4 linked regions of the Homo sapiens genome follow. The protein of the gene in region 1 purifies or fractionates together with the protein of each later gene. This does not show direct contact. Each region holds a gene or a part of one and is shown on either strand. Other genes may lie near its edges.

Region 1 (8,677 bases):
GCAACTTCTGGCTCCCAGGCTAAAGCCGTCCTCCCACCTCAGCCTCCCGAGTGGCTGGAACTACATGCACAAGCCACCGTGCCTGACTACATTTTTTTGTTTTCATTTTTGTAGAGATGAGGTCTCACTGTGTTGCCCAGGCAGGGTTTCTCTGGCTTTTAATGAACAATTGCTTCTTTTTTTTTCTTTTATTTATTTATTTATTTATTTATTTATTTATTTATCATTATACTTTAAGTTTTAGGGTACATGTGCACGTTGTGCAGGTTAGTTACATATGTATACATGTGCCATGCTGGTGCGCTGCACCCACTATCTTATCATCTAGCATTAGGTACATCTCCCAGTGCTATCCCTCCCCCCTCCCCCCACCCGACAACAGTCCCCAGGGTGTGATATTCCCCTTCCTCTGTCCATGTGATCTCATTGTTCAGTTCCCACCTATGAGTGAGAATATGCGGTGTTTGGTTTTTTGTTCTTGCAATAGTTTACTGAGAATGATGATTTCCAGTTTCATCCATGTCCCTACAAAGGACATGAACTCATCATTTTTTAGGGCTGCATAGTATTCCATGGTGTATATGTGCCACATTTTCTTAATCCAGTCTATCGTTGTTGGACATTTGGGTTGGTTCCAAGTCTTTGCTATCGTGAATAATGCCGCAATAAACATACGTGTGCATGTGTCTTTATAGCAGCATGATTTATAGTCCTTTGGGTATATACCCAGTAATGGGATGGCTGGGTCAAATGGTACAATTGCTTCTTAAATCTTTCCCCACGGAAACCTTGAGTGACTGAAATAAATATCAAATGGCGAGAGACCGTTTAGTTCGTATCATCTGTGGCATGTAGGTCAGTGATGCTCAGCATGGGTGTGAGTAAGATGCCTGTGCTATGCATGCTCCCTGCCCCACTGTCAGTCTTCATGAGCCACTATTTCTAATAAGACTGTAGACACACATACGATATAATCATCTCTAATCATATCAAATGTTACATGTAAGTTTCACCTTTAGAGACATGAATTGATAAGATTTGAAGTTGAAAGACCATGACTCTAGTACTTCCTGAGTAATCAACTGAAGTATGCTTTACACATGTGTTTTCCAAATTGCTGACTGTTAATTGTAAGTGCTTGTGACTTGAAAGGAAGCACTTGATGTTCAGGGAGGAAATTCCTTTTAAATTCTGCAGGTCTACGCTCAAAGTTTATGCAGAGGTTCAATTGCGTGTAAGACACGGGATCACCCATAGGGTTCTGTTTTTAGTCCATTTAATAAAACCCAAACTGTAGTGTGCTTTGTATGCCTTTAGGGTCATCTGAATAATCTGTTGCTAAGTCATGTTCCCAATCGTTGTGTTTCTGTTACAGGTGAAAAGCAATCACAGTGTTAAAAGAAGACACGTTGAAATGATGCAGGCTGCTCCTATGTTGGAAATTTGTTCATTAAAATTCTCCCAATAAAGCTTTACAGCCTTCTGCAAAGAAGTCTTGCGCATCTTTTGTGAAGTTTATTTCTAGCTTTTTGATGCTGTGAAATATGTATCATTCTTTGAAATCGTGTATTGTAACTCTCTGAGCTGGTATGTAGAGACATCGTTCTTTTTTTTTTCTTTCTTTCTTTGTCCTCTTTTGAGACGGAGTCTTGCTCTGTCGCCCAGGCTGGAGTGCAGTGGCGCGATCTCTGCTCACTGCAACCCCGCCTCCCGGATTCAAGCAATTGTCTGCCTCAGCCTCCCGAGTAGCTGGGATTATAGGCACCCACCAGCACGCCTGGCTAAGTTTTGTGTTTTTACTAGAGATGGGCTTTCGCCATCTTGGCCGGGGTGCTCTTGAACTCCTGACCTCGTGATTCACCTGCCTTGGCCTCCCAAAGTGCTGGGATTACAGGCATGAGCCTCCGCGCCCGGTGGAGACATAATTCTTACATATTGGTTTTCTATCCAGCGGCCTTGTGAAATATGCTTGTGAATTCTAAAGTTTACTTCTAGGTCGTTTTCAGTCTTCAATATACAGAAACATATCATCCTGGAATAAGAGCAGTTTTGTTTCCGCCATATTTTTTTCTTTTCCCTTTTGTATTTTTTTGTAGAGACGGGGTTTTGCCATGTTTCCCGGGCTGTTGTTGAACTTTTGAGTGCAAGTGATGCACCCACCTCACCTCCCACAGTGCTGGGATTACTGGCGTGGGCCACCGTGGCGGGCCCGTCGTTGCCATTGTAAAGAGTTTTATTTCCTTTTCTGATTTTATGGCATTGCGCAGACCCACCCGTTACAATGGTGACAGTGGACATCCTTGTCTTATCCCTGATGAGAAACCGAAAAATTTCAACATTTCACCATCCTATTCACTCTCCTTTTTTTGTAGACGGACTTTATCAGAGTGAGTCATTGCATTCTGTTCCAAATTTGCTGAGAGTATTCATTTGAATATATGTTGATTTTCATCAAACAGTGCATCTATTTCGATTACCACAGCGTTTTTTCCCATTCATGTGTTAATATAGTGAATTCGATTGATAAATTTGTACGTTTTTAGGTTCGATTATTAAAACTTGAGACAGCGTCTCACTCTGTCACCGAGGCTGGAGTGCGGTGGTGTTATCAGAGCTCGCTGCAGCCTTGACCTCCTGGGCTCAAGCGCGCCTCCCACCTCAGCCTCCTGAGGAGCTGTGAGTATAGGTACATGCCACCATGCCCAGCTAATTTTTCGATGGTTTTTTGTTTGTTTTTTGTAGTGATGAGATTTTCTGATGTTGCTTAGGCTGGTCTCGAAGTCCTGAGCTCAGGTGATCTGGCCAGCTCAGCCTCCCAAAATACTAGGATTACAGGCGTGAGCCTTGGCCTGGTCTGGTTTTTCTTATATAGGGGTCTTATCTATATAAAGACTAAAGTTAATCTGTGCCTTTGTGCGGGTGGGCTAAGAGCATGATGACTTTTATCATTCTATTGATTTAAAGAAAACTGTCCTTGACTTACCAGTGTGTAAGTCCATGAAAGCATAATTCTGTTGAAAGCATATATTGTTAATGGGTGTTGGGAACCGTGCACTTTCCGCTGCTGTGGGAGCATGTCCTTGGAGGTACCTTTCATCTGTTTTCTCAACTCCAAACATCTTAGGACCATGGGTTGTGACTGGTAGGACTATGTATCTTGCTGCTTTCAAGACGGAGTATATTTTCACGTGGTGTCACTCTGGCTGTCCTGTTTCCCTAATACTGTCACTTCACCCTCTGCGATTCTGATGCTACAAATGATAGATATCGTTTTAGCATTTTCTTACGGGTCCTAGCGATTCTATTCATTTTTCTTTCAGTCTCTTTCTCTGACTTGTTCACATTGAACAATTTCCTTTTGGGATAGGTTGCTATTTCTGTTTTCGCAGGTGGTTTACCTGTCTTCCCAGCCAGTCACAGTGGTCCTTGTCCCCATGGTGGGTCCGGGGCAAGAGAGGGCCCTGGGTTGGGGGTGGGGTTCAGTTGAAGATGGGGTGAGTTTTGAGGGGAGCACTACTTGAGTCCCAGAGGCATAGGAAACAGCAGAGGGAGGTGGGATTCCCTTATCCTCAATGAGGATGGGCATGGAGGGTTTGGGGCGTGGCGCTGGGAACGGCAGCCCTCCCCAGCCCACAGCCGCGCATGCTCCCTGGGCTCCCGCCTCAGTGCGCATGTTCACTGGGCGTCTTCTGCCCGGCCCCTTCGCCCACGTGAAGAACGCCAGGGAGCTGTGAGGCAGTGCTGTGTGGTTCCTGCCGTCCGGACTCTTTTTCCTCTACTGAGATTCATCTGGTAGGTGTGCAGGCCAGTCATCCCGGGGGCTGAAGTGTGAGTGAGGGTGGAGAGGGCCTCGGGTGGGTCAGGCGGGTCCCGCTTCCTGGTCTGTGGCCTCCGAGGGAGAAGGGCCACGAGGTCGTCCTCCTTCCCTTCACAGGCTGCGAGGCCACCGGCGGCTTCGTGGTCGTGAAGGGGCCTGGACGGGGAGGAAGGTGGGCCGTGGAGGGGAGGCGGTCAGGGGCTCAGGTGAAGACGGGGTGAGTGCTGTTGGGGGGATGGAAGTCCCGAGGTGCCGGGATCCCCGACGACACAGGGCAGATTCCCTGAATGGGGCCCCCGGCGGGGGCGAGGCGGGCGGTGAAGAAGGGGCCTGGCACCTGGGAAGGCTGCGGCCTGGCGAGCGCCCCCTCAGCGGTGTGGAGTGCGGAGCGCCCGAGTGAGAAGCACTGCAAGGTCTCACCTCCGCCATGGAAGGTCCGAAAACAGTGGGAAGGAGTGGGCGAGGCAGTGCGGTCCAACCAAACTTGTTGTGAGGGGGGGTGAATGGCTCTAGGAAGTGGGAGTGTGCCCAAAGCAGCAATCACGAGAATTGTGATTCACTAGGGTTTTCGTGGGGAGTGCACTTGTGAAACTAAACCTCATCAGAAATGACCTCTGTCTGCGGGGCGCAGTGGCGCTCGCCTACGTATTCCCAGTTACTGGGGACACTGAGGTGGGAGGATCCCTTGAGCGGGAGGTCGAGGCTGCAGTGAGCTGTGATCACGCCGCTGCACTCCAGCCTGAGCAACACAGCGAGACCGCGTGTCCAAAAGAAATTTAGAAAAAAATGTCCTCTGCCTTTTGCCACACGCCTTAAGATGATTGCTCTGCCAGCCTGGCCAGCAGAAGTGGCTTTGTAGGCACTCAGACAGCGTACACACGTATGCTTAACTCTGGGACTTATTTTGAGAGTATTTTCAAAAGTAAAACGGCAAGTTAACATTTATCCATGGAAGTGATCGAATATAGCAGCCCTCTGGAGCGCACGTTCCCAATCACGGTTGTCTGTTTTCAGTGTGAAATATGAGTTGGCGAGGAAGATCGACCTATTATTGGCCTAGACCAAGGCGCTATGTACAGCCTCCTGAAATGATTGGGCCTATGCGGGTGAGTGCTTAAACGTTAATTCGATGTTTTCTATTAGTAGAAATTAATTTTTGTGATAGCGTCGTTGCATTAGTGTGGAAATGCTGATAAAGGTCTTTCCTGCTCATAAAAAATGAGGATGGCATCTCATGAAGGAAACATTGATTCTGGAGGATTTTTTTTTTCCTCTCGTGTTCTTCAGCTTTTGCCCATGACTTCTTTCTCCGGCTTTGTTTGTTAATGACAGATTGTACACATGTATTCCAACACAGAGTATAATAGCCCCCAAAGTCCTCGTGCGTCACTTTTCTCACAGTAACCTCCCTGTGGGTGGAGTAACCTTATTGGGCATAGAGCATAGAGTTGGAGAAATGTCTTTAGGCTTAGTTAGGACCAGAAATAGCTATGTATTCTGTGTATATATGTAAAATTTTGTATCAATAACGAAACTTATTTTTTATTTGCACACCCACACGTATTCCCCAGCCCGAGCAGTTCAGTGATGAAGTGGAACCAGCAACACCTGAAGAAGGGGAACCAGCAACTCAACGTCAGGATCCTGCAGCTGCTCAGGAGGGAGAGGATGAGGGAGCATCTGCAGGTCAAGGTGAGGGAAAGGGAAGAAGAACGTCTGCTGGTGTGTGCGTGTGTGTGTGTTCGTGTGTGTGTGTGTGCACGTGTGTGTGTGTGTGTTAGGCATTGTCACATAGGAGGAAGAGGAGGAAAGAAAACAATGGAAAGAATGCCTGAAATTGACTGGAAAAGCGAGGAGGCTATGTAGTTCGCAGCTTAGCTTAGGCAAATCCCTCACTATGGTAAAAGATCTCGACTTTATGAATGAGAGAATGGAGGTGCCAGGATTGTGTGTTATCCAAGAACCCTTGACTGGTGAATACAACATTTGTACTGTGTTCCAAGGTTTGTGTCTTCCTATCATGTATGTTGCTGTAAAGAAGGAAGTGATTTTGCTGAAAATGCTTAAAACTCAAAAGGCTTTACTGTAAGGTAGCTTAGTACTGACCCAAGAATAGACCCAGTTCAGAGGAGCAGGAGCAGCTCCAAAAACCGAGTCGCTGAATGTTGGCCCCCGTTTCCTTTGATTGATATTTTTATATGGTACGTTTGATAAAAGCTGGATAAATGAGGATACTGCCATACAGGTAGCTGGTTTAGTGATTTTTCTCAGCGGCCTTTAGGAGGTGATTAAATCCTTTTATGGTTAGAAAAGCAAAAACGGAATTATCCTGAGATTAACGTGAGATGGAAATAATTTCTCCGAGATAAAATGTTTTGAAAGGAAGCATTTATGTAACGGAGGTCATGGATTATTCCAGGGATGCACTGTTAAAAGTTCCTAGAATCTGACTGACAACAATGCCCATTAATTGCTGTCCGCCCACTCCCTTATTCTCAGTGCGGGGGACAGTATATTTTCTGTGATTCACAAACAATGTTATATTTGGTGCTTTGTTCTTCACGGGGTTCATTTATGGAATATTACCTTTAGGACCTTCGGACCTAAATATAACTTTATTTGAACAAAGTGAAGTTTCTCTTTACCCCAATAGGTAATGGGTGTCGTGACTGTAAGATTTTCCATAGTCCTCAAATCCATCCAGCTAATCAATCCTTCAGAAACTGACATTGTAATTGTAACTGAAATCCTACCCACGTGGTAGACTTCAGATTTCTCAGCTGACGCACACTGCTGTTGGTACTCTAGGGCTGAATATAAGCATTATACATGTCCTGTGGTTTATCCTTAGATTGTCATTTAGGAGAAAGGTCTAAAGCTGGGCTGAATGCCATGCACTCATAGTCCCAGCTACTTGGGAGGCCGAGGTGAGAGGATTGCTTGAGTCCTGGAGTTCAAGCCCAGCCTGGGAAACACAGTGAGACCTCATCGCTAATAAATAAATAAATGGATAAATAAATACATAAATAAATTCATTAAATAAATAAAGTTTTCATGGTATAGGAAAACACAGATGCAAAGTTTTTGTGCCTAGTGGCTGGTAATGTTGCAAACGTAACTCCTTAGTGAACTGTACCACTTAAAAATAGTTAAGATGGTAAATTTTAGGATATCTGTATTTTGTACCACAATTGGAAATTCCTTTCTTCCTAAAGTTCAGTGCAGTTATCATATATTCTTTTAAATTTTTCCTGTATGTATCTTCAAGTCATAGCATTCATAGAAAATTTGCAAGAATAGTACAATGAACTCATATACTGTTCATCTGGATTCACCAATTGTTAGTAGCTTTCGCTTCATAGGTTTCACATCTCTTCCCTCCGTCTCTTACCGTGCTGCCCACACACTCACACACACACACACACACACATACGGATATATGTTTACTGTTATTAATGCTGAATTGTTTCGATAAAGTTTCAGGTATTATGGTCCTTTACCCTATGTACTTGAGGGTGTGTTTATCGTCAGAACAAAGAGAAAGTCATTTCTTGGATCATCACTGCACAAAGATCAAAATCAGGAAATTTAACAATGAGAAAATGGAGTCATTTAATACAGAGTGCATACTCAAATTTTGCCAGTTCCCCAGAAAATTTCTTTTTTCCTTTTTTTTTTCTTTGTTGAGACGGAGTCTCTCTCTGTGGGCCAGGTGGGAGTGCAGTAGTGCGATCTCGGCTCACTGCAACCCACACCTCCCAGGTTCTAGGGATTCTCATGCCTCAGCCTCCCGTGTAGCTGGGACTACAGGCGCCGGCCACTGCGGTCTTGAACTTCTGGCCTCACCTGCTCTGCCCACCTTGGCATCCCAAAATGTTTGGATTGCAGGCGTGAGACCCCACGCCCGGCCCAGATAATTTTATTGATAGGATTTCTTTTTCTGATCCAGAGTCCAGTTCAGAATCACACCTTGCATGTGCTTTTCAGGTGTTTTTAGTTTCCTTTAACCTGTAATGTTTCCTTAATTTTTCTTGTCATTCACGATACGGACATTTTTGGAGAGGATAGACCAGTTGGTTTGCAGAATATTCTGCAGTTTGGGCTTTTTCATGTATTTTTAAAAGAGTTTTCTCACTCAGCGTTTATTGGTGGCTACTCATGCCATGTAAGAGTCTAAGCGCTAGGAGTGTAAGTGCTGTGAGAGACGGGATTTGAGCCTTGAGTCATTTAATACGAGAAGGACAATCAGAAGTAGAATAAGAGAGAAGTGCAAAGGAGGCAGCAAAGTTGTCTGAGGGCAGTCTTCGGAAAGGAAGAGGGTAATATTTGGAACACCTTGTTTTCCTGTTTTCTGCTAACGGACTCCTGAAATAATGTTCCTGGGATTCTTATCAACACATTTATTATTACGTTAGCTAAAGCTTTTATATAATAATACCGAGAGCATGAATATCATTTTCTTATTCATATTTTATGTTTTACTGCTTAAATTGATACGTATTTTTTATTTTTAAGGGCCGAAGCCTGAAGCTGATAGCCAGGAACAGGGTCACCCACAGACTGGGTGTGAGTGTGAAGATGGTCCTGATGGGCAGGAGATGGACCCGCCAAATCCAGAGGAGGTGAAAACGCCTGAAGAAGGTAGGCAATCCATTAGGCATGCACATTGTAGGGTGTCTGTTTCCACAGTATCATATTGTAAGTCTTACTATGTTTTTGAGACGGAGTCTCGCTCTGAAGACCAGGCTGGAGTGCAGTGGTGCCATCTCGGCTCACTGGAAATTCTGTCTCCAGGGTTCAAGTGATTCTCCTGCCTGAGCCTCTGGCGGAGCCGGGGTTACAGGCGTGCTCCGCCGTGCC
Region 2 (7,910 bases), on another chromosome or scaffold:
TTCACTTTCCCCATGCTTCTCACATGGGCCAAAATTACCCTTTTATTGCCTGCCAATCAAAGCTCTCCCTTTTTCACCACGAAGCAAACAGACCACAAATTGTACATCTTAGGGTCCTCAGTTCTTGACAACTCTATTTGTTTCCAGTTTTCTCTGGTTTTGAGTCATTTTGGAATGTGGAGGGTTTTAGAAATCTAGTTTCCATTCCTTCAACACATCTATATTGAGTATCTTTCACATATAAATATATTTGTAACCGATTTTGAAAATTAAATGAAAACCTTGTCTCAAACTTTGATAAATCTATACAATGCATGCACACAAATGTTTACCAGCACCACACTGTCCCATCACTAAACATGTGATGTAGATAACTTGTGGATTTTAAAATAGACATCTTGAAAGCAGTCACAAAGCATAACACTGAGGTGACTCACAATGAAAAATTACTATTAGAATTGGAAATGACAATGTAAATTTGATTTAAAACAAAAGAAACCCTGTTTCATCAATAGTTTAGATAGTTACTTAAAGAAATAAATCACTTGCCTTATATAGCTCTTTGAAATAATGAATTATGCCTTGACAGCTGTGTCATTTCAATTAAAACCAGTGAGAGATAAGGCCCTTATGCCCTCTTTGGGGATGGGTGGTTGTTTTAAGCTAGATGGCAGTTAGATGACAATTTGAGAGAAATAGAAGGTTATTTATGAATATTGATAGACTCAAATTAAAATTTAATCACAATGTTTAGTCAACTTGTCATAAACTGAGTTCTTGGATATCAGAATGTAACAGGAGCTAAGCATCTCTCATCAAAATATTTCACCTTTTTCATTGACGAGTAACAACAATCAGTGAGTGTATGAACCTGAAGTATGTTGCAATCTGTGCAGATTTATTGCCAATTGTAAATTGAGGGAGGCACAGCCAACATAATACTGAATGGAGAAAAGTTGAAAGCATTCCCTCTGAGAACTGGAACAAAATAAGGATGCCCACTCTCACCACTCCTCTTCAACGCAGTACTGGAAGTCCTAGCCAGAGCAATCAGAGAAGAGAAAGAAATAAAGGGCATCCAAATCGGTAAAGGGGAAGTCAAACTGTCACTGTTTGCTGACGATATAACCGTTTTCCTGGCAAACCCTAAGGACTCTTCCAGGAAGCTCCTAGAACTGATAACAGAATTCAGCAAAGTTTCTGGATACAAGATTAATGTACAAGAATCAGTAGCTCTTCTATACACCAATGGTGACCAAGTGGAGAATCAAATCAAGAACTCAACCCCTTTTACAATAGCTGCAAACAAACAAACAAAAAACCAAAAACTTCGGAAAATACCTAACCAAGAAGTTGAAAGACCTCTACCAGAAAAACTACAAAACACTGCTGAAAGAAGTCATAGATGACACAAATGACACAAACATCCCATGCTCATGTGTGGGTAGAATCAATATTGTGAAAATGACTATACTGTCAAAGCAATCCAAATTCAATGCAATCCCTATCAAAATACCACCATCATTCTTCACAGAATTAGAAAAAAAATTCTAAAATTCATATGGGATCATAAAAGAGCCCACATAGCCAAAGCAAGATTAAGCAAAAAGAACAAATCTGGAGACATCACACTAACTGATTTCAAACCATACTATAAGACCATAGTCACCAAAACAGCATAGCACTGGTACAAAAATAGGAACATAGACCAATGGAACAGAATAGAGAACCCAGAAATGAACCCAAATACTTACAGCCAACTGATCTTTGACAAAGCAAACAAAAACATAAAATGGGGAAAGGACACTCTTTCAACAAATGCTGCTGGAATAATTGGCTAGCCACAGGTAGGAAAATGAAACTGGATCCTCATCTCTCACCTTGTACAAAAATCAACACAAGATGGATTAAGGACTTAAACCTAAGATCTGAAACTACTAAAATTCTAGAAGATAGCATTGGAAAAACCCTTCTAGACATTGGCTTAGGCAAAGATTTCATGACCAAGAACCCAAAAGCAAATGCAATGAAAACAAAGATAAATAGCTGGGACCTAGTTTAACTGATGAGCTTTTGCATGGCGAAAGGAACAGTCAACAGAGTAAACAGACAACCCACAGAGTGGGAGAAAGTCTTCACAGTCTATACATCTGACAAAGGACTAATATCCAGAATCTCCAGCAAACTCGAACAAATCAGTAAGAAAAAAACAAATAATCCAATGAAAAGTGGGCTAAAACATGAATAGACAATTCTCAAAAGAAGATATACAAATGGCCAATAAACGTATGAAAAAATGCTCAACTTCACTAATGGTCAGGGGAATGCAAATCAAAACCAAAAGGTGATACCACCTCCCTCCTGCAAGAATGGCCATAATCAAAAAATCAAAAAACCAATAGATCCTGGTGTGGATGGAGTGAACAGGGAACACTTCTACACTACTGGAGGGAATGTAAACTAGTACAGCTGCTATGGAAAACAGTGTGGAGATTCCTTAAAGAACTAAAAGTAGAATTACCATTTGACCCAGATGAAAAGAAGTCATTATTCAAAAAAGATACTTGCATACTCATGTTTATAGAAGCACAATTCACAATTGCAAAATCATGGAACCAAATCAAATGCCCATCAATCAATGAATGGATAAAGAAACTGTGATATATATATGAGGGCATATATATATATGATGGCATGTGTGTGTGTGTATATATATATATATATGATGGCATGTATATATATATATGTATATATATGATGGAATACTACACAGCCATAAAAAGGAATGAATTAACAGCATTTGCAGGGAACTGGATGAAATTGGAGACTATTATTCTAAATGAAGTAATTCAAGAATGGAAAACCAAACATCACATGTTCTCACTGATATGTGGGAGCTAAGCTATGAGGATACAAAGGCATACGAATGATGCAATGGGCTTTGGGGATTTGGGGGGAAGAGTCGGAGGGGGGTGAGGGATAGAAGACTACAAATATGGTGCAGTACATACTGCTTGCGTGATGGGTACACCAAAATCTCACAAATCACCACTAAAGAACTTACTCGTAACCAAATATGACCTGTACCCCAATAACTTATGAAAAAATAAAAAAATAATAAGCTATAAGAGGGATAGCTGGGCTCTCCCTTTGTGGCTTATTATTGCTTTCATGTTTAATTCCACCTGTAAATCTTCTTCTATTCTAATTAGAAAAAAAAGTAGAAGACTTCAAATAAATCAGTGAATTGAAATATCAAGTCAAATATAATACAGTAGAAACACATTAGATATGCCAAATGTTAACTCACAGATTAAAATATTAACTTTGTGCCACAAACTATACATTCTGAGGAGAGAGACCCCATCTGTTTTGTTTATTACTGGATCCCCAGCCTCTATCACAATGCCTGGTATATAATCTCTATGTACATATTAACTAGCAATAATACATAATATATACACTATGATATAATAGCTTAGTATAGATGTTAACCTTATCGCCTAATGCCAACATGATTACATTCCCTTTTATGCTTTTTTAACCTTAAATTTAAGAATTGAAATAAAATACCGATGCAATAGGATACAATGTGGTAACAAGAAATCCATTTGGCATATATAAGAAAGGCCATGGGAATAACACGAAAGGGCCTGTTGTACAAAGATATGAAGGTACCATAAGAACACCATTAGGAATGAGAATTTAAATCAACAGTTCATAAGGAACCACTTGTTTTATTCTGGGGTATCTGCAAAGTAACAAATATAAAAACATTACATGGTTATATACATCAGGGCTACCTATAGCTAAGTTTCAGAAGGATGCTACCCTGTGAAGGAGAGTCTGGGAGGCAGGACTCAAACAAATAAGAAAAATACAGATGTCTAAATGTGAGTGTTCAAAAGAACAAAGATGACTTTTGTATGATCAATAAATCATTCATGGAAAATAATCAAAAGATTATTCATAGGAAAATAAAAGTGTGTTTTTAAAAAAACACAGGGTAGATAATGATCTCCTGAGACATTTTATAGGATAAATTATATTAGAAGATAATTAGATAATTTGCTAGTTATCTAAATATGAGATGGAAAATTAAGACAATGAATTTGCATGATTAGAACAAACAAGCACCATGTAGACAAACTTTCCTTGCCCTGGAAGGGTAAGAAGGTAAATCTAAATCAGATAATTTACATGAAATATTGCTTATAAGTGGATTCTTTTCTTTTTCCTAAGACTAGCCAAGGGATAAAGAGATGGCTGGAAACTTTTGTTAATTTTGAAACCAAAGAGCCATGTAAAGGTAGAGGGAAAAATTACTTTGGAAAAAATTCACAATGTCACAAAAGGCAAACTGCCTATCTGGAAAAAGAGTAGAGCAATTAAACTGATAGTTAATTCAAATTATAATTATAAAATAACTATAATTCTCTTTCTGCTAAAGCAATGAATTGAATTCCAGCTACAGAGCTAATTCTAACATTCATGCAAAACTAAGGCCATGTATATATTTTGCTATGTACCATTTTTATGATCGACTAAGCCTGTATTGTTAGTTACAAAGTGAGTTTTGTTATATGTACAGTAAATCATATGTGTATAGTGGGTTATGCCCTGTGCTTACTTTAAATATTGAAATATAAGCATGTGTAAATTATAAATATGATTATTATACTTTATCATATTAACTCTTCTTATAGACCAACATGGGCAACTGTTTTTAGAGATATCATAGAAATTTCTTAAATCTCCTACCTATCCCTGAGAATGGTCCAGAGCTCTCCACCTAGACAAGCTTCCATCAACATATACAAATATTTGCTGTCCTTAAATGTTCTGTACAGTCTGTAAATTGCAAACAAGAAAACAAAGATTATAAACATTACTGTCTTTTACAAGTGTGCAATTTTGGGGGGCCCAGATTATAGTTTTGATTTGCCAAGCTCAAAATTTTGTCAGAATGAGAGAGATCTAAGCCCACACATGGGGAAAAGAAGCCAATGGCTCATGAATAGGATTTTAATAGAAGAAACTAAGGCGCTAATCTCTCCCTTGAAATGGATTAATCATAATGATTATGGACAAAGAGGGTTTCTTGGGATTCTTTCCATTCCAATTTGGGTAATGTTTTGAGCATAGACCCTTGGGGCAACATTTAGTGGTCATCAACATGCAGTGAAAATGGGAATAAAGTGGATTAAACTTTACAGATTCAGACATGTATAAATTTCATATGCTATTCGCTCAAATTCATGTTACATCTTGTTTTCAGTAAATGCCACTGGAAAATTCACTACAAAAAGCTGCTTCCACATATAAAAATCTCCCCATTATCCATTTATTAGTACTGAGGTGGAATGGTCAGCTGTCATTTCATTTTTTTAGATCTTCAAAAAATATTCAGATAATTAAAGGTTAAATAGTTTGATTTTGGATATTTTGTCTTTTAAGCATCAAAGGTCTATGTAGAGTTTGGGGATTTAAAAAAAGATAAAAATGGAATGTTAGAAACTCTGGTACCTCCTTTGGGAAAACACATTGTTTTCAGACACTAATTCTCTTTAAAAGAAAGAATAGAGTCAGAACTTTATTTTTAGAAATCAAACAAAACTTTCTTAAGATTAGATTAAAAAGAAGTTTCTTTGTGCATACGAAATGTGTTAACAGTGAGCACAAGTGGCAGAGGGTTTTGTGGTGGATTTGTCACTTGGAGTTGGGTACGTCTGTCCCTGGCATGGAGCCTTTACCTCACTATGAAATCGGAATGAGCCCCCTGCATGATCTGCTTCTCTGAGCGGATGTGCTCCTGCTGTCTTGTGTCCACAATGTGACGTTTCTTGAGAATCTTCATTGCAAACGTTTTGGATTCTTCACTTTTCAACTGGACCTTAAAGAAAGAGAGAAGAGAGTAAGAAAAAGCCCATAGACTTGTAAGAGTGCATTATTATCCCCAAATTAACAGGTACATGGCGCACTTAAATGAACCTCAGCCACCTCCCAAGTCAAAACACAGTAAATCCTTGGTAGAGCTGCGTTTAACATCCAGGGCTCACAGCTATCATCCAATCTCATGCTCTGAATTGGCTGAATTTTAACTAACTTGATTCCAAATTAATTGTGTTCACGTGTGGATTAGAAGAGGGAAAATGTACTTAGTTCTAGTTTTATTATTTCATGTCATAGAGTGTGTTTGAATACATTTTATAGTTCTTCTGTCAAAAGAGTAGAAAAAAAACTTCTTTTCCAATTTTATTTCAGTAAAGATGGCCAAAAATAGGGTTATATGGGCCTTTATATTCTTCCTCCTTAGTTCTAATCCACAAACATTTCTAATTTTTTTTATCTTTTTTTTAAAATTTTATTATTATTATACTTTAAGTTCTAGGGTACGTGTGTACAACGCGCAGGTTTGTTACATATGTATACATGTGCCATGTTGGTGTGCTGCACCCATTAACTTGTCATTTAGTATTAGGTATATCTCCTAATGCTTTCCCTTCCCCCTCCCCCCACCCCACAACAGTCCCCAGTGTGTGATGTTCCCCTTCCTGTGTCCATGTGTTCTCATTGTTCAATTCCCACCTATGAGTGAGAACATGCGGTGTTTGGTTTTTGGTCCTTGCGATAGTTTGCTGAGAATGATGGTTTCCAGCTTCATCCATGTCCCTGCAAAGGACATGAACTCATCATTTTTTATGGCTGCATAGTATTCCATGGTGTATATGTGCCACATTTTCTTAATCCAGTCTATCATTGTTGGACACTTGGGTTGGTTCCAAGTCTTTGCTATTGTGAATAGTGCCGCAATAAACATACGTGTGCATGTGTCTTTATAGCAGCATGATTTATAATCCTTTAGGTATATACCCAGTAATGGGATGGCTGGGTCAAATGGTATTTCTAGTTCTAGATCTGTGAGGAATCGCCACACTGTCTTCCACAATGGTTGAACTAGTTTACAGTCCCACCAACAGTGTAAAAGTGTTCCTATTTCTCCACATCCTCTCCAGCACCTGTTGTTAACATTTCTAATTTTTAGCTTGAGTGGTGGACCCTAGTCTCTGCTGAGACTGCAGACTGTTATTTCTTCAGTACTGACTGTATTCATTTCTTCTTTTTAACCTTGCAGAATTTTCCCTCCCTACAGTTTAAAGAGAAAAAAAATTGTAACAAGATTTTTTCAGGAGATTTTGAAAACCGTTTGTTTTTCTTCTCAAACAAGCATGATGGCTTTAGTTCCTTTGACCTCAAACTTTACTCTCTAATAACTGGGAAGACTTGGAGGCTTAATATCTTTCAATGTGCCATGCCTCTCTTGCAGCCCTCATGGCTCCCAGTGGCTCCAGAGGAGGCATGGATCTTCCACATGCCTTACTCAGACAGGGTGCTGTTTATGGTTTTACAAGAAATTTCAAGAAGGTGACTTGTAACAAAAACAAGAGAGGTAATAGAGCTAATTACTTAAAAGCAATGTAAGGACATTATCATCTAGTGCTCTCAAGCAGCAGAATCCTCAAGATGATACCAAACAGCCCATATTATTTGGGAGTAATGTAACCTTGGGGAAATAACATGGCATGCTGTTTCTGCTTTTCAGCTGAAGTATGGCTGTCCCCTCTTTAGTCGTTAATTATTTACTGCTTCATCAGCAGGGATAGCGAAGGTCTTAAGTGTCTTGTTCCTGCACACATGTACAGATTGAGTTCAATCTTCGAAGATATTCATGTGGCAAGTTCCTTAGGAGGGAGCATGAAGATACTGCAAATAAATGGGCCTCGGTTAGCTGCCAGCAATTGTGAATCAGTATGACAGGTAGAGGGAAAAATGGGTATTTGAAAATGCTTTTAACAGCCAAAGACCCTGTACTCTGGCTGTGAAACTCAAAGATGACAGATTAGTGTGCT
Region 3 (7,122 bases), on another chromosome or scaffold:
ACGATGTCTTCTGGCTACTTCCTGCTGGAAAGGGGCGTCGAATGGGGAACAGCAGCTAGGGCTCCTCCTGGGGTTGATCTAAGGGTCCTCGGAAGACTGACGTGTCCATGTGTGGTTCAGTTTATAGCACCATTTGGAGTTTGATTGCTGTGAGTTGGGTGATCCTCTCCTCTTGAGGTCCCAAGATAAACTCAGAGCTTCCAGACAGATAATTTCCAAATTCTAGAGGAACCAGGCAGAGAAATAAACATGCTTCAAATTTTGTTCATAGGAGTACACCTTACTCAATTATTAAAGGCCATAAATAGTTTAAAATAAGTTTCCTTGACTCAGTCTGATGAATGAATTTCCTTTCTCGGCCAACGCACCAAAATGATGTGGCTCCGATGAGTGGTGGAGCACCAGGGTTTTTGGTCCTCATGCCAGCTTAGATACAAGGACACGGACACACGTGGAGTGGTTTTAAGGAGCAGAGAGTTCAATAAGCAAGAAGGAAAAGAGAAGGAAGAAGCTACCCTGTACAGAGGAGGAGGGCGCCAAAGCTGAGAGAGGCAACCCCTCAAATATTAAAAAGGAAGAAATGGCGTGATAGGCTAGCACATTTTATGGAAAGCCATGTCTTAATTAAATGTTTTCCCTACAAATGTTCTCTGTATCAAGAAACCTGGCACATAGGGAATGCATGAAACCTGATTTATAATCAGATTCAGTCTACTTAAGTAATAACCTATATCTAGATGATAGATTGTCAACTGTGCTACTTTAGCCATCATCACATACCCAGCGTTTCTATCCTTAGTGACACAGCTGGGCCAGAGGCAAGGCCTGCATTCATGCATGCAGATTATTTTACTGTAAAAAAGAACACTGTGTTTTGAACTTTAATTGCACAAATAGACACAGCAATGACATTCTCTTCTAGTAACTAGTAACAGCCCATTATTCCTCACATAGTACCTAAGATAGAGCTGTTAGAATTTAGATAGACATTAGATAGCCAGTGAAAATATTTTAGTCTACAGTTGAAACTGTAACAATATTGGTATTGTTCTCAACTACCCCTGGTCTAGTTAAGGGCTTTCAAGTATGTGTTTGGACCAAGTATTTTCATGTCCACCATCTAGATAGTCCTTGGTCTATTTCCCACCCCATGTGCTTTCTGGTGGGATGATCACATCTGCACCTCTAGTCCCCAAGCTGTCCCTGAGCTCTGTGTCCTCACTGTCTCCACATGGAGTGTCCCCTTCCACCTCAAACTTGACAAGGGTTGTGTCTCCACACCACCCTGCTCCTCCTGGATTCCAGCCCAGTCTGTCCTTCCTTTTCTGTTGGTTGCCCTGGTTCAGAGCCCTGGGACCTCTCATGTTCCTCTCCCAGAGTCTCTTCCAGCCTTACTCTACCCGCCAGACCACTTCTTGGTCAGCATACATTGTGCATTTCCCCAGGTTTGTGCCTTTCCTATATTGTCTCCTCCACCTAAAAGGCCCAATCTGTTAAGTTTCTGCTCAATCCCATCTCCTCCACAAACCTGCTGAATCTCTTCATTGGAATTCATCTTTCTCTTCTGTTCTCCACACTGACTGCACTTTGTATGCTATTAGCATCTACAGTTTACTTTTTCTCAAGATTTTATGTTAAAATTTTTCAAATATTCAGAAAAATTGAATGAACAGTACAACACTCATATACTTGCCATTTAGTAAACATTTTCCTATATTTACATCTCTTCATCTCCGTATCTGGCCTTATGTTTTTATGCATTTCAAGGTAGCAGACATCAGTACATTTTACACCTAGATTCGTTTACATGCATAGCATTAGAGTTCAATAGTTGCTTACTGTATTTAGGTAAACTTTTCATACAGTGAAACGCAAAATCTCAAATGTACCTTTCAATGAATTTTGATGCATGTACACACCTTTATAACTCAAATCACTATCCAGATGTAGAACATGACCATCACACCAGAGGCCCTCCTGCCCCTTCTCAGTTGATTCTAATATCCACTCCCGAAAGCAACCACAGTTCTGATTTTTTTCACCATAGATTGGTTTGACTAACTTTTTGAACTTCATATAAATGGAATCAAACAGTATGTACTGCTTCACATAAGGCTTCTCTCACTCAGCATAATGTTTTTGAGATCCGTTTGTGTTGTTGCATGTATGAATAGTTTGTTCCTTTTTGTTGCTGAGTAATATTCCATCATATGAATATATTGTAGTGTGTGTATTCATGTCCTATTGATAGAAACTTGGGTTGTTTCAAGCTTGGGGTTGTACAAGTTGTTTCTTTGTTGACATATGCTTTCATTTCTCTTGGATAAATACCTGGGAGTGAAATTGCTGGGTCCTAGTGTAGGTCTATGTTTAGTTTCGTAAGACACTGGTTAAGACCTTTTTTCAAAGTGATTGTATCATTTTATCCTTTCACCACAAATGTATGACAATTCAGGTTGCACACAGCCTTGTCAACATTTGGTGTAGCACAGTGGCTCACGCCTGTAATCCCAGCACTTTGAGAGGCCAAGGCAGGAGGATCGCTTGAGCCCAGAAGTTCAAGACCAGCCTGGGCAACATGACAAGACCCCATCTCTACAAGAAGTTTAAAAACTAGCTGGGCATGGTGGCACACACCTGTGGTTCCAGCTACTCTCAAGCTGAGACGGGAGGATCACTTCAGCCTGGGAAGTCGAGGCTGCAGTGAGCCATGTTCACACCACTGCACATGCTGTGTTGTCCAGGCCTGGACAACAGAGCAAGACCTTGTCTTTAAAAAAAAAAAAAAAAAAAAAAAAAATTAGCTATTCTGGTGGATGTGTAATAGTATCTCATTGTGGGTTTGGTTTTCATTTCCCTAGTGACTAATGATGTTGAATGTCTTCTCAGTGCCTATTAGTTGTGTTACTTATTCAGATATCTTCTGTGAAAAACCTGACCTTGTGAAGGTAAAATCTTTTGTCAATTTGTAATTTAAAAAAACATATTTTTACAATGGGTCAAAGGAGTTCTTTATATTTTCTGGATACCAGTCTTACGTGAGATATGTTTTGTGAGTATTTTTTCCAACTATCATTTGTCTACTCATTGGCTTAATGGTTTCTTTTCAAGAGACATTTTAAATTTTGATGAAATCTAACATTTTTTCCTTTTATGCATTGCTTTCTGTGTCCTAAGAAACTATACCTACTTCAGGGTCACAAAGATACTTCATGCGGTTTTTTTAAGATAATAATTTTAGTGTTTACACTTAGGTCTGTGACCATCTCAAATTAGTTTTTATGTATGGTATGCAGTAGGAGTCAAGGCTAGTTTTCTGCCGTATGGATATGCAGTTCTGCCCAGCCGACTACTCTCACTCTTCATGTTGTGACTGAGCCTGCCCACCTGTATGCCCATGACCTGGCCTGATCCTTTACACACAACAGATGCTTCCTTCATGTTCACTGAATTGCAATACAGGTTCAGAGAACAATAGAGGATTCCTGCAATCTTTTAATGCCTTGATTTTGAAAATGGTTTTACAGAATTCATCTCCCAAAGTAAATATCAGTATATAGAGCCTGTTCAACCCTTCAGTTAGCATTTCCTGCCAAGAATGTAGGTTAAAGCAATAAGGTTAATTGCATCAATCTTTGTTTTTGGCTTCTTTAGAGTGAAGAAAGGACATGAATTCAGCTTTTTATTGAATTCTTAATATATGCTAGGCATGGTGCTTCATTGCTTCTACTACATCTTCTTGTTTGATCCTTATAGCAACCTTGTAGGAAATTTGGATGCCAGAGATTTTAAGTGACTTCTGCGTTACACAGTTACTAAGTTGCAAAGCTAGGAGTTCTCTGGGACAGGGAAATCTGGAGGAGAGCCAATAACTTGATTCTGATATAAGATTTCTATAAAAGAATTAACATCTAATTGATTGTAAAGTGTATAGAACTTGATAACAAAACTTGATATGTAATTAAACTTGTTAAATTGTGAATCATCCCAGTCAAAGATAACTAAAAAAAAATCAGTCTTCTAATATCAGTCTCTAAGGGTATAGTCATATATGCAAAAATAATAGCCCTTAGGAAATATATTTAGGCCTAAATCTCTAAGCTAAGGATGGATTTGATAGTAAAAATACATTAAAATTATAAATAGCTCCAAGGCCCACACACTGCCCATGACTTTATAAAATGTTCTTGCATTCAGGTTATACAGCCAGAGTCTTAATTCAGAAAGCCAGAGTGTTCCTCTAGTGTGTGGATTTGATTTTGTGTCTTTGTGCTTCCTGTTGCCTCCTGGTGAACGCAGTTCTGACCTTTCCTTTGTTTGCAGGTATGCTTCAGAAGTGTCCTTCTGTTGATGACTTCGTAAGTGCCCTCGTTTCCGACTTGGATCTGGACTTCGAAACTTTCCTCATGGATTCTGAATAAAAGAAACACTCTACACCTCTTAAATCAAGGTCATGTAGATAATGACTTTGTTATAAATGCTACAGCTGTGAGAGCTTGTTTCTGATTTCATTGTTCGCTTCTGTAATTCTGAAAAACTTTAAACTGGTAGAACTTGGAATAAATAATTTGTTTTAATTATTCTGGCTTTTCACCTGTTTGGCAAATATTTGAGCACATGGAAATCTCTGACCTAGTAACAACAACACTTCTACATGGCATTGTTAAATGGAGGGTATGGGCATTTCCTTAGTATAACCACTCTCCTGTTGAGCTTTTCCCTCTTTCCATGGATCTTTAATTGGTTTAATTAAATAATTAACTAAAAGCAAAATTGTTTAAGACAGAGTTTGAAGCAGTCTTCAGACAGGTTACACTTATAGTTCTTTTAAGAATGATGACCATTTCTTAAGACCACTATCTAAAGTAGGCTTAGAAAATGCACTTTAAATAGTCAATTACAGGCAACCAACAAACCAAGTGTGGTTTCCAAAATACATGTAATTATCTGTACTGTTTTTTCCTGAATGTTTAGGCAAATAGACTCAGAACACAGAGGACTGGCTTGGCAATGAAGGTAGAATGAGTAAGTGCAGGTACAATTAATAAGTGACATACCAGTGTCAAGCAACTGGTGAATCAGGAAACAGACCATGTCTGTTTTTATCTGGAACTCATTTGCTTTACAGTATTGCATACCATACTGTATTTTGGTTAATATCAGGAAATAAATTATTTAATGGGTTTTTCCCACCATTAAAGTCAAAACCAAATTATGAATTTCCAGTTTAAAAAGGCATCTGCTAACAGCCTCTTCTTGCTTCTCACCAAAGACCAATGATGAAAGGAAAGATTCAAAATACCCAAAACTAGGACACACATTCAACCTATTTGCAGAATCTGGAGGAATTTCTTCATGCTCAGAGATGGGACTGGATGGAGAAACATCATCAGTGGCCGGCCTGTGCCAGGTGCTCCTGGATGCAAGGGGGATCGACCCTTCATGCTTTCCCACCTCCTCCTCACCCTTAGAAATCCAAATCGGTACTGACCAGAAAGCAGAGCAGCCAGCACCCCAAGTAGGGCTTTGCGTTTGACTGAGTGCTGCAGTGGGTCCCTGTCCCTGCTGCTCCCCATTGGAGCTTCTCTCTCTATACAGCAGCACTTGGAAACTGCAGCTCACACAGCCTTGGGCAGGGAGTCGGGCAAGCCTGGCAGTGGTGTCTCCTCTGTACCCAAAGCAGAGCTGAGGAACGGAGACAAAGGTTTGAGGAAGGGCTCTGGTGCAGTGCCCAGGGAGGAATCTTGCTGTTTCTATGTCTCACCCTATTTACAATATCCAAGCTAACTTAAAAAGAGATCTTATCCTGACAAACTGGCAATACACAGATGCCAGCTCATTCTGGGAAACAGACTTGGAGACATTTACAGGTAAATCAGTTACAGGTAAATCTGAAAAGTGCTTTCATCAGCACCCAGGTGCACCGACAGTGACAAAACCCCTGCATCTTTATCAGGTCTTTTTTGTAGAGGTGAGTAACCAAAAAAAGAAGTCTATGTGGAGCCTTTTTAAAAGCATTCTTCAGAAAAGGGAAAGGAAGACTTGACCTGGAAGATGCTGGAAAATCATAACTTAGAAAATTATTATTTCTTTTGAGACAGAGTCTCGCTCTGTCACTCAGGCTGGAGTGCAGTGGCATGATCTCAGCTCACTGTAACCTCCGCCTCCCAGGTTCAAAGGATTCTCATACCTCAGCCTCACTAGTAGCTGGGATTACAGATGTGCACCACCACACTGAGCACATTTTTGTATTTTTAATAGAGATAGTGTTTCACCATGTTGGCCAGGCTGATCTCAAACTCCTGACCTCAAATGATCCACCCACCTTGGCTTCCCAAAGTGCTGGGATTACAGGTGTGAGCCACTGTGCCTGGCCAAAAATTATTTTTTTAAAGGAGCAAATTGCTCCTTGTACATTGCAGCAAAATCTCTCTGTTTTGTTTGTTTGTTTATTTGTTTGTTTTTGAGGCAGAGTCTTGCTCTGTTGACCAGGCTGGAGTGCAGCAACATGATCTCGGTTCACTGCAACCTCTGCCTCCCGGGTTCAAGCGATTCTCCTCCCTCAGCCTCCCAGGTTCAAGCGATTCTCCTCCCTCAGCCTCCCGAGTACCTGGGATTACAGGCGCCCGCCACCATGCCTGGGTAATTTTTGTATTTTTAGTGAAACGGGATTTCACCATGTTGGCCAGGCTGGTCTCAAACTCCTGACCTCAAGTGATCCACCCGTCTCAGCCTCCCAAAGTGCTGGGATTACAGATGTGAGCCACCGTGCCTGGCCCTCTCTGGAATTCACAAAGAGATTTGAGAAAACATGTTATTTATGAAGTTGAAAGCCATAAAGAACAGGCAGAAATTAAAAGACAATAGGACAAGTTACAAAGGAAGATGGGTAAAATAAATGCAGAGAAATGATAACCACAGTACAATGATTTAAAACATTGTCAGAATCAGAAAAGAAGAAAATTGTCAAGGAAAAACCTGAGAAACATCTTTCAGAATGCAGGTTAAACAGATGCAATGAGAGCAGATAGCAAGACAGCAGAGTGGAGGGCTACACCCTCTGAATTCTAGAATTCCTCAGATGAAGCCACGGCATTTGCAACAAAAGCAATAAGCAGAAAT
Region 4 (7,910 bases), on another chromosome or scaffold:
ACTTGCTTCAGCTTCCTAAAGTGCTGGGATTACAGGCATGAGCCACCATATCCAGCCCAGACTTTTTTTCTTGTCATTATTTCCCAAACAATACAGTATAACAACTATTTCCATAGCATTTACATTGTATCAGGTATCATAGGTAAGATAGAGATGATTTAAGTTACTCTTGAGAGGATGTGTGTAGGTCATATGTAGACACTATACCATTTTATATGAGGGACTTTTGAGCATCTTTGGGTTTTGGTGTCTTTGGCGGTCCTGGAACCAGTGTCCCCCACGGATACCAACTGTCCATAAGCAAAGTAGAGGTTTATTTGTTTGATTATAGTGGTGAGAAATGAATGAATTTCTTTCTCTGTCCTTTACAGGAAGAAGTTCTAAAGGATTTTGAAGACTTGGCTGGAAAACTCCCATGGTCAAACCCCTTAAAAGTGTGGAAAATTAATGCCAGTTTTAAAAAGAAAAAAGCAAAGCGCAAAAAGATAAATCAGAATTCAAGTAAAGAGAAGATTAATAATGGACAAGAAGTCAAAATCGATCAGAGAAATGTTAAAAAAGAGTTCACTAGCCATGCTTTAGATTCTCATATCTTAGATTATTATGAAAATCCAGCCATCAAAGAGGATGTATCAACATTAATAGGTGATGATTTGGCATCTTGCAAAGATGAGACTGATGAAAGCTCAAAAGAAGAAACTGAGCCTCAAGTGCTGAAGTTTAGAGTCACATGCAACAGGGCAGGAGAGAAACATTGCTTTACCTCAAATGAGGCTGCAAGAGATTTTGGGGGTGCTGTTCAAGATTATTTTAAGTGGAAGGCCGACATGACCAACTTTGATGTGGAGGTAGGTATAGGCTCTGACTGTGGTGATTGAAGAATGCTGTCACAGATTTGTAGAATTTCCAGACTAACCCAATGTTATGCACAATTAAACTGAGGAAATAGTAGGGTGTGGTTAAGAAGAGCATAGGCTATGGAGACAGATTTAGATCCAAATTTTAACTCCACAACTGTATAACTTTGGACTAGATAGTCTCTGAGCCTCTGTTTCAAATGGAGCCAATAATATTATGTACCTTTAAGGTTATCCTGAAGGATAAATGAGGTACATTTAAAATATTTGGTGCAATACCTTGCATACACTAAGTGCTCCATAGATGGAAGCCATCAAGGTTGAGTTGTCTGTTTTCTTTTTCTTTTTCGAGACAGAGTCTTGCTCTGTCACCCAGGCTAGAGTGCAGTGGTACGATCTCAGCTCACTGCAGCCTCCACCTTCCTGGTTCAAGTGATTCTTGTGCTCAGCCTCCCAAGTAGCTGGGGCTACAGGCACATGCCACCACACCTGGCTAATTTTTGTATTTTTTAATAGACATGGGGTTTCACCCTGTTGGCCAGGCTGGTCTCAAACTCCTGTAGTGATCTGCCTGTCTTGGCCTCCCAAAGTGCTGGGATTATAGCTGCACCTGGCCTGATTTCTAATAGACTACTCTTTTACTATATTATATGGACTTTCATATTATAAAATTCAACCAGAATTAAAATAGTTATTTTGTTTTTGTGTGTCTTGGTTGCAGAGCTTTGCTACTGAAAAAATAAAATAAGGCTGGGCGCAGTGGCTCACGCCTGTAATCCCAGCACTTTGGGAGGGAGGCCGAGGCAGGTGGATCACTTGAGGTCAGGAATTTGAGACCAGCGTGGCCAATATGGTGAAACCCTGTCTCTACTAAAAATACAAAAATTGGCCCGTCATGATGGCACACTCCTGTGGTCCCAGCTACTGGGGAGGCTGAGGCAGGAGAATCACTTGAACCAGGGAGGTGGAGGTTGCAGTGAGCCAAGATCATGCCACTGCACTTCAGCGTGGGTGACAGAGCAAGACTCCATCTCCAAAAAAAAAAAAAGTGCATTTTTTAAACAAACCCTGACCTTCTCAAACCAGGACATCATTGCTAATACTCATCCTAGAGTCAGCTCTCCTCTTTCTTAAATTCTGCTAGATTTCCAAAGCCAGGTACCTCATTTTAGTATATTTACTTTCCTTGGTCTTAATCCTCTTTTATCTGGGTGATTGACATGTGAACCATAGGAACTAAAGTATTTAAGTCTCTGACACCTTAAAACATCTCTAGCAGCTGATATATTTACCAAAGAGTCAATTTCCGTTGCTTTTGGGACACTTGAATCTGGGGCAAGTCACTGATTCTAACTTTTTTGTGCATGTCAAATCAGGAGTCTAATTCCCCATTCCTTTTTTTCCTCATACACTGCCTTGCAAATGAATACGTGGCTCACACCTGTAATTCCAGTACTTTGGGAGGCCTTGGCAGGCAGATCGCTTGAGCCCAAGAATTTGAGACCAGCCTGGGCAAAATAGTGAGACCCTGTCTCCACTAAAAATAAAATAAATATTTTAAAAAATAAAATGAATAGGTTAACCAGAACAGTGATGTCTAAAAGTTAGCAAGGTGATTCAGAGGAGTTTCTGGAGCCGTGCTGCATTGGTTTAAATCCCAGAGGAGGCTGGGTGTGGTGACACACACCTGTAATCCCAGCACTTTGGGAGGTCAAGATTGGAGGATTGTTTCAGGCCAGGAGTTCTAGACCAGCCTAGGCGACATAGGGAGACCCTGTCTCTACAAAAAATAAAAAAAAAATTAGCTGAGTATGATGACAGACACCTATAGTCCCAGGTACTTGGGAGGCTGAAGTAAGAGATTGCTTGAGCCCAGGAAGTCCAGGCCACAGTGATCTGTGATCATGCCACTGCACTCAATCCTGGGCGACAGAGTGAGACCCTGTCTCAAAAAGGGAATTCCTGAGGAGCTGTCTTTGTGCCTCAGTATCCTCATTTATAAAGGGAATAATACCTAGCTTAGGGGATGTGAATATGAGATGAGGCCATGTATGTAAAATGTGTAGAATAGTGCTTTGCATTAGGAAGTGCTGTATGAGTATCAGCTGTGCTTCTGCTGTGGTTAAGCTCAGGAAGTCTTTCAGTGAAAGATTGGGGAACATTTTGGTTTAGTTTAGTTCACTTTTGAGACAGGGTCTCGCTGTATCACCCAGACTGGAGTGCAGTGGTGCAATCATGGCTCACTAAAGCCTTGACCTCCCAGGCTCAGGCTGTCCTCCCACCTCAGCCTCCCGAGTAGCTGGGACTGTGGGCCTGTGCCACTGCACTCAGTGTAATAAGACTTTTTATTTGAGACTTTACCAATTTTTAAAACTTTTTTGTTGAGATACACTTTGCACCCCTTAAGTACACAAATCTTAAGTTTTCAGTAAGTTTTTACTTATATACACGATGTGTAAACAGCATCCAGATAGAGATACAAACTATTTCCAGTACCTCGGGCTCCCCTTGCCCTTTCCCAGTCAGTACCCACTCAAGGCAATCACTAATCTGACTGCTACCACCAAAAATTCGTTTTGCCAATTTTTGAACTTCATATAAATGAAATCATATAGTATATAGTTTTTTTCGTTCATTTTAATATCTATTATTTTCTTTTAATTCACTATGTTTATTGGCTACAACCAGATTTCACCCCAATTTTTATAACACAAACATATTTTGAAGGCTTAGAGGTTTTTTAATATGTATTTTTTAAATGTCTTAACTTTTTAGACAGTTCTGGGCTGTGGTGCGCTATGCCAATCAGGTGTCTGCACTAAGTTTGGCATCAATATGGTGACCTCCCAGGAGTAGGGGACCAACAGGTTGCCTAAGGAGGGGTGAACCGGCCCAGGTCAGAAAAGTCTTATTACTAAGCGCAGTTTGAACAATCCTAAAACTATTTTGTCTTGTTCCACTTTGCTATAGGTTCTTTTGAACATCCATGATAATGAAGTCATTGTGGGCATTGCATTGACTGAAGAGAGTCTCCACCGAAGAAATATAACACATTTTGGACCTACAACTCTTAGATCAACTCTTGCCTATGGGATGCTCAGGTAAGAAAATGAGTTTGCCATCCAGCTTAAAGTGGCACCTTGGTTTGAATGTTCCCTTCAAAATACTGATTTGTGTGTATGTGTGTTTGAGGTACTGTGTTGGAATAGAGTGGATAAAGAATAGAATGGAAAGCTAATGATCTATTTCTTTCCCTTCTATCCAATATTGACTCCTTGTGATCTGAAAATACTGCTTAATAGGTGGCTCAGTTTTCTTTATTTCTTTTTTTGAGACAAAGTCTCACTCTGTCGCCCAGACTGGACTGCAGTGGCGAGATCTCAGCTCACTGTAACCTCTGCCTCCCGGGTTCAAGCGATTCTCCTGTCTCAGCCGAATAGCTGGGATTACAGGTGCCTGCCACCACGCCCAGATAATTTTTGTATTTTTTTAATAGAGACGACATTTCACTATGTTGGCGAGGCTGGTCTCAAATACCTGACCTCAGGTGATCCACCCGCCTCGGCCTCCCAAAGTGCTGGGATTACAGGTGTAAGCCACCGCGCCCGGTTTTCTTGATTTTAAAATGAGAGTAATAGTTTTCACCTGCCTCTTGAATGAGGTTACCACATTTCTGTTTAGCAAGGATATGTGTGTTGGGAGATAAGAGTAAATTTTGCTGTTTCATTTCTGTGCAGTGAAAAAGATGAAAGCAGAGATTTTTATGTGTATAACGTGTAAATGAACAGAAAGAGCTTTTACTTATATTTTTAAGCTTTATACTCACAGCAACTCAGGAATCATCCTAGAATTTTTTGCTTTTCAGAGTACACGACCTATCTTTCCTTCTCCTTTGCCCTTCTCTCTTTTATTGGGTGCTTCTTTCCACCACTTGAAAATGTTTATTTTCTCTAAAGCTTCTGTTTTCCAGATGGCAAAATGGATTTGATGTGAGACTTAAAGGATTATTAGTGAGGATTAAATGCTGAAGCATATGCAAAATACCTATTATATACAGTGCCTGGTATGTCCTGGTAGTTAAGTCCAGTCATGCATCACTTAATGACAGGGATACATTCTGAAAAATGTGTCATCACGCAATTTCATCATTGTGCGAACCTCATGGAGTGTACCTACACAAATCTAGATGGTGTAGCCTACTACACACCTGGGCTATGTGGTATCTCCTATTGCTCCTAGGCTACAAACCTGTACAGCATGTTATTGTACTGAATATTGTAGTCAGTTGTAACGCAGTGGTATTTGTGTATCTAAACATAGAAAGGATAGGGCAAAATATGGTATTATAATTACTGCATTCATATATTTGGTCCACCATTGATTGGAAGATTGTCATGCAGTACACGACTGTATTCCTTCTCTTCCAATCTTTTATCTTCCTAACATATTAATTCAATGACGATAATAGAAAATTGGGCCCATTTGATAAAGGAAAATCTTCTAGTCTTCATTAATTTAACAAATATGCATTATCTACTGCCAGGCATATGGTAGAAACCAGGGATACAGAGAGGGTGTTATTTTGGGTGCAAATATTTAAAACCTAAGTAATCAAGTTTAGGATAAAAAAGTGATAATTGTGCCAGAGAGGGGTTTATTGGAAAGATAAAGAGAAATCTTGGGGATTCTACAGAAAAACTGAATGTTGGTTCTCAAGAAGGGTAGGAACCACATCTTGGAAAACCACCAGAAATGTAGGCAGCCATTTTTATCTCCCCTTAGAGCCTGTGGACTCTTGTCTCTTCTCATCTACATGCTTTCTCATCTAAATTTATGTATTTCCAATTCCAAACGACCAACCCACACTGCCTAGGGCTTTTAGCTCTTTGTTCCAAATTCCTGGAAGAGAGGATCTGATGGACATTGTTTTGGTCAGATATTCACCCCTGACCATCAGGAATGGCTTGGAGTACAGGGTGCTTACCCCCTCAAGAGGGTTGCCAAGGATTCTATTGCCATGTGTTGAGGAGTAGGAGCAAGGAGATAGAGCAGGACCAATGTTACAATAAGAACCCACTATTAACCCCCAAGAATCTGTCTTGTGAGGGAGATAAATAGTTATCATACATGCGATAAGTCCCACACCAGCACATGAAAAGATTAGAAGAACAAGAGAAGGGAAGAAACCTACTGACCTGTTTCAGGGTGGGATGCTTCATAAAGAGGATAACAGTTAAGCCACTAACAGTAATGCCTCTAATCTTGAATCTGTTACCTACTAGTTTTGTGTCCCTGGGCAGGTAACTTCATGTTTCCTTGCATCAGCTTACCTTTAAAATGAGAATAATGATAATTATCTAACAGGGTCCTTACTGAGGATTCTGTGAGATAATGCATGGAAAGAGCTTAAGTCCATGCCCAGGAAATACTAAGTGCTCAAAGTAAAGCATTTTTTTTTCCTTTTTTTATTACCTAGTCCCACAGAGCAATTTTTTTATATCAAGATTAGCTTTAAATTCAGAAGGAAAGGAATACTGAATGTCTCATTGCCAGTAACCTTATATTGATGCATGTTTGACTTGAGACATTTTTGAGTCTTTTTAATGTAATACAGGTTTCTGTTGAAAACAACACTGTTGTCAAAAAGTATGCATGAGCGTGTGTGTGTGTGTGTGTGTACACATGTGTACTTTAAGATGTCTGCAAACTAAATTTCATCTGAGAGTGAAATGGGATTTTGGAAGATAGTCAAAGGAGATTTAGTTATAAGGATTTTTTTTCCCCAAGTAATGGAATATACAGTCAACATATCATTATAAATTGATTTTATTTATTTATTTATTTATTTTTGAGACGGAGTCTTGCTCTGTCACCCAGGCTGCATCTTACATGATCTTGGCTCACTGCAATCCCCGCCTTCTGGGTTCAAGCAATTCTCGAGTCTCAGCCTTTGTACTAGCTGGGATTACAGGCACCCACCACCACGCCCAGCTAATTTTTTGTATTTTTAGTGGAGACGGGGTTTCGCCATGTTGGCCAGGCTGGTCTTGAATTCCTGACCTCAAGCGATCCACCCATCTCAGCCTCCCAAAGTGCTGGGATTACAGGCGTGAGTCACCGTGCGCGGCCACAAATTGATTTCTAAAATATGTGTAGATTGGTGTTCCTTCGGGCTAGTGTGGTAGGTCCTCAATCTTAAAGCTTCAGGAATCATCAGTATAGAAGCCTCAGCTTTTGAGTGAGTCTTCACATAGGCTGTTTTCTTTTCTCTAGGCTCTGTGATCCTCTACCTTATGATATAATAGTCGATCCAATGTGTGGAACTGGGGCAATACCAATAGAGGTAATCATATTTCTTTAGCTTTTAGATAAGAGTGATACATCCAGAATATTCTAGACCTAATGGGCAAATTAGACATAATGAAATCTCCATGGTTGGATCAGTGGACCCAAGAGTTTTAAAACAATTAACAATAGAAAGTGGAACTTTTTTGTAAAGAATGTAACTACTTATTTCAAAGAGCCATGTGCCACTGGCCTAGATACATTGTTAGTGACATCTATTCACTAGATTACAGAGGAAGCTGAGAATTACAAACTGCCGATGAGTCCTCTTTGTGTAACAGACAAGCTGGTAGACTTGAATGGGAAAAGATAATTGAAGGCATAAGCATAAACTGGAGGAAGGCAATTTTCTTCTCTGTAATCCACTTAAGTTCCTAGAGGGAATAAGTATAGTTGTAAAAAGGGGAAACTTATGAACATTACTTGGATTTTTTAGGAAGTCTAACAAGCTTAATACCAAATGCTCTTAGTTTTCAAAATTACCATGATATTGAGAGGACTCATAAAAACTGTGTAAAGCAAAGCAAGAAATGGAAAGGCATTTTCTAAATGGAGAATATTTCACAGTAGATTCCCCTTGAATAATCAGTATCATCTATATGTTTTTAAAGAATTTAGAAGAGGGAGCTCCCAGTAAAATCACTGAAGTTTGTGTGAAACATAGTAGTTCTTCCATATAGTATACTGACAGCCAATTTGAATAAACTG

The links.
Region 2: the proteins of GAGE1 (region 1) and PRKG1 purify together in Homo sapiens (affinity purification with mass spectrometry; one large-scale study listed by BioGRID and IntAct). This does not show direct contact.
Region 3: the proteins of GAGE1 (region 1) and MIPEP purify together in Homo sapiens (affinity purification with mass spectrometry; one large-scale study listed by BioGRID and IntAct). This does not show direct contact.
Region 4: the proteins of GAGE1 (region 1) and THUMPD3 purify together in Homo sapiens (affinity purification with mass spectrometry; one large-scale study listed by BioGRID and IntAct). This does not show direct contact.

The regions. Positions count from the first base shown.
Region 1 is NC_000023.11:49,595,336-49,604,012, forward strand, and holds the start of GAGE1 (G antigen 1), read left to right. Parts: upstream 1-3,684; 5' UTR 3,685-3,792; intron 3,793-4,831; 5' UTR 4,832-4,839; coding exon 4,840-4,923; intron 4,924-5,388; coding exon 5,389-5,509; intron 5,510-8,332; coding exon 8,333-8,458; intron 8,459-8,677. Other genes in the region: GAGE2A (G antigen 2A/2B), read left to right, coding at 1,376-1,398. UniProt on the Homo sapiens protein: Antigen, recognized on melanoma by autologous cytolytic T-lymphocytes.
Region 2 is NC_000010.11:52,269,333-52,277,242, reverse strand, and holds part of PRKG1 (cGMP-dependent protein kinase 1), read right to left. Parts: intron 5,894-7,910; coding exon 5,754-5,893; intron 4,852-5,753; coding exon 4,762-4,851; intron 1-4,761. UniProt on the Homo sapiens protein: Serine/threonine protein kinase that acts as a key mediator of the nitric oxide (NO)/cGMP signaling pathway. GMP binding activates PRKG1, which phosphorylates serines and threonines on many cellular proteins.
Region 3 is NC_000013.11:23,727,647-23,734,768, reverse strand, and holds the end of MIPEP (mitochondrial intermediate peptidase), read left to right. Parts: exon of another isoform or gene 1-222; intron 223-4,323; coding exon 4,324-4,421; 3' UTR 4,422-4,580; downstream 4,581-7,122. UniProt on the Homo sapiens protein: Cleaves proteins, imported into the mitochondrion, to their mature size.
Region 4 is NC_000003.12:9,370,689-9,378,598, forward strand, and holds part of THUMPD3 (tRNA (guanine(6)-N(2))-methyltransferase THUMP3), read left to right. Parts: intron 1-371; coding exon 372-848; intron 849-3,827; coding exon 3,828-3,958; intron 3,959-7,130; coding exon 7,131-7,200; intron 7,201-7,910. UniProt on the Homo sapiens protein: Catalytic subunit of the THUMPD3-TRM112 methyltransferase complex, that specifically mediates the S-adenosyl-L-methionine-dependent N(2)-methylation of guanosine nucleotide at position 6 (m2G6) in tRNAs.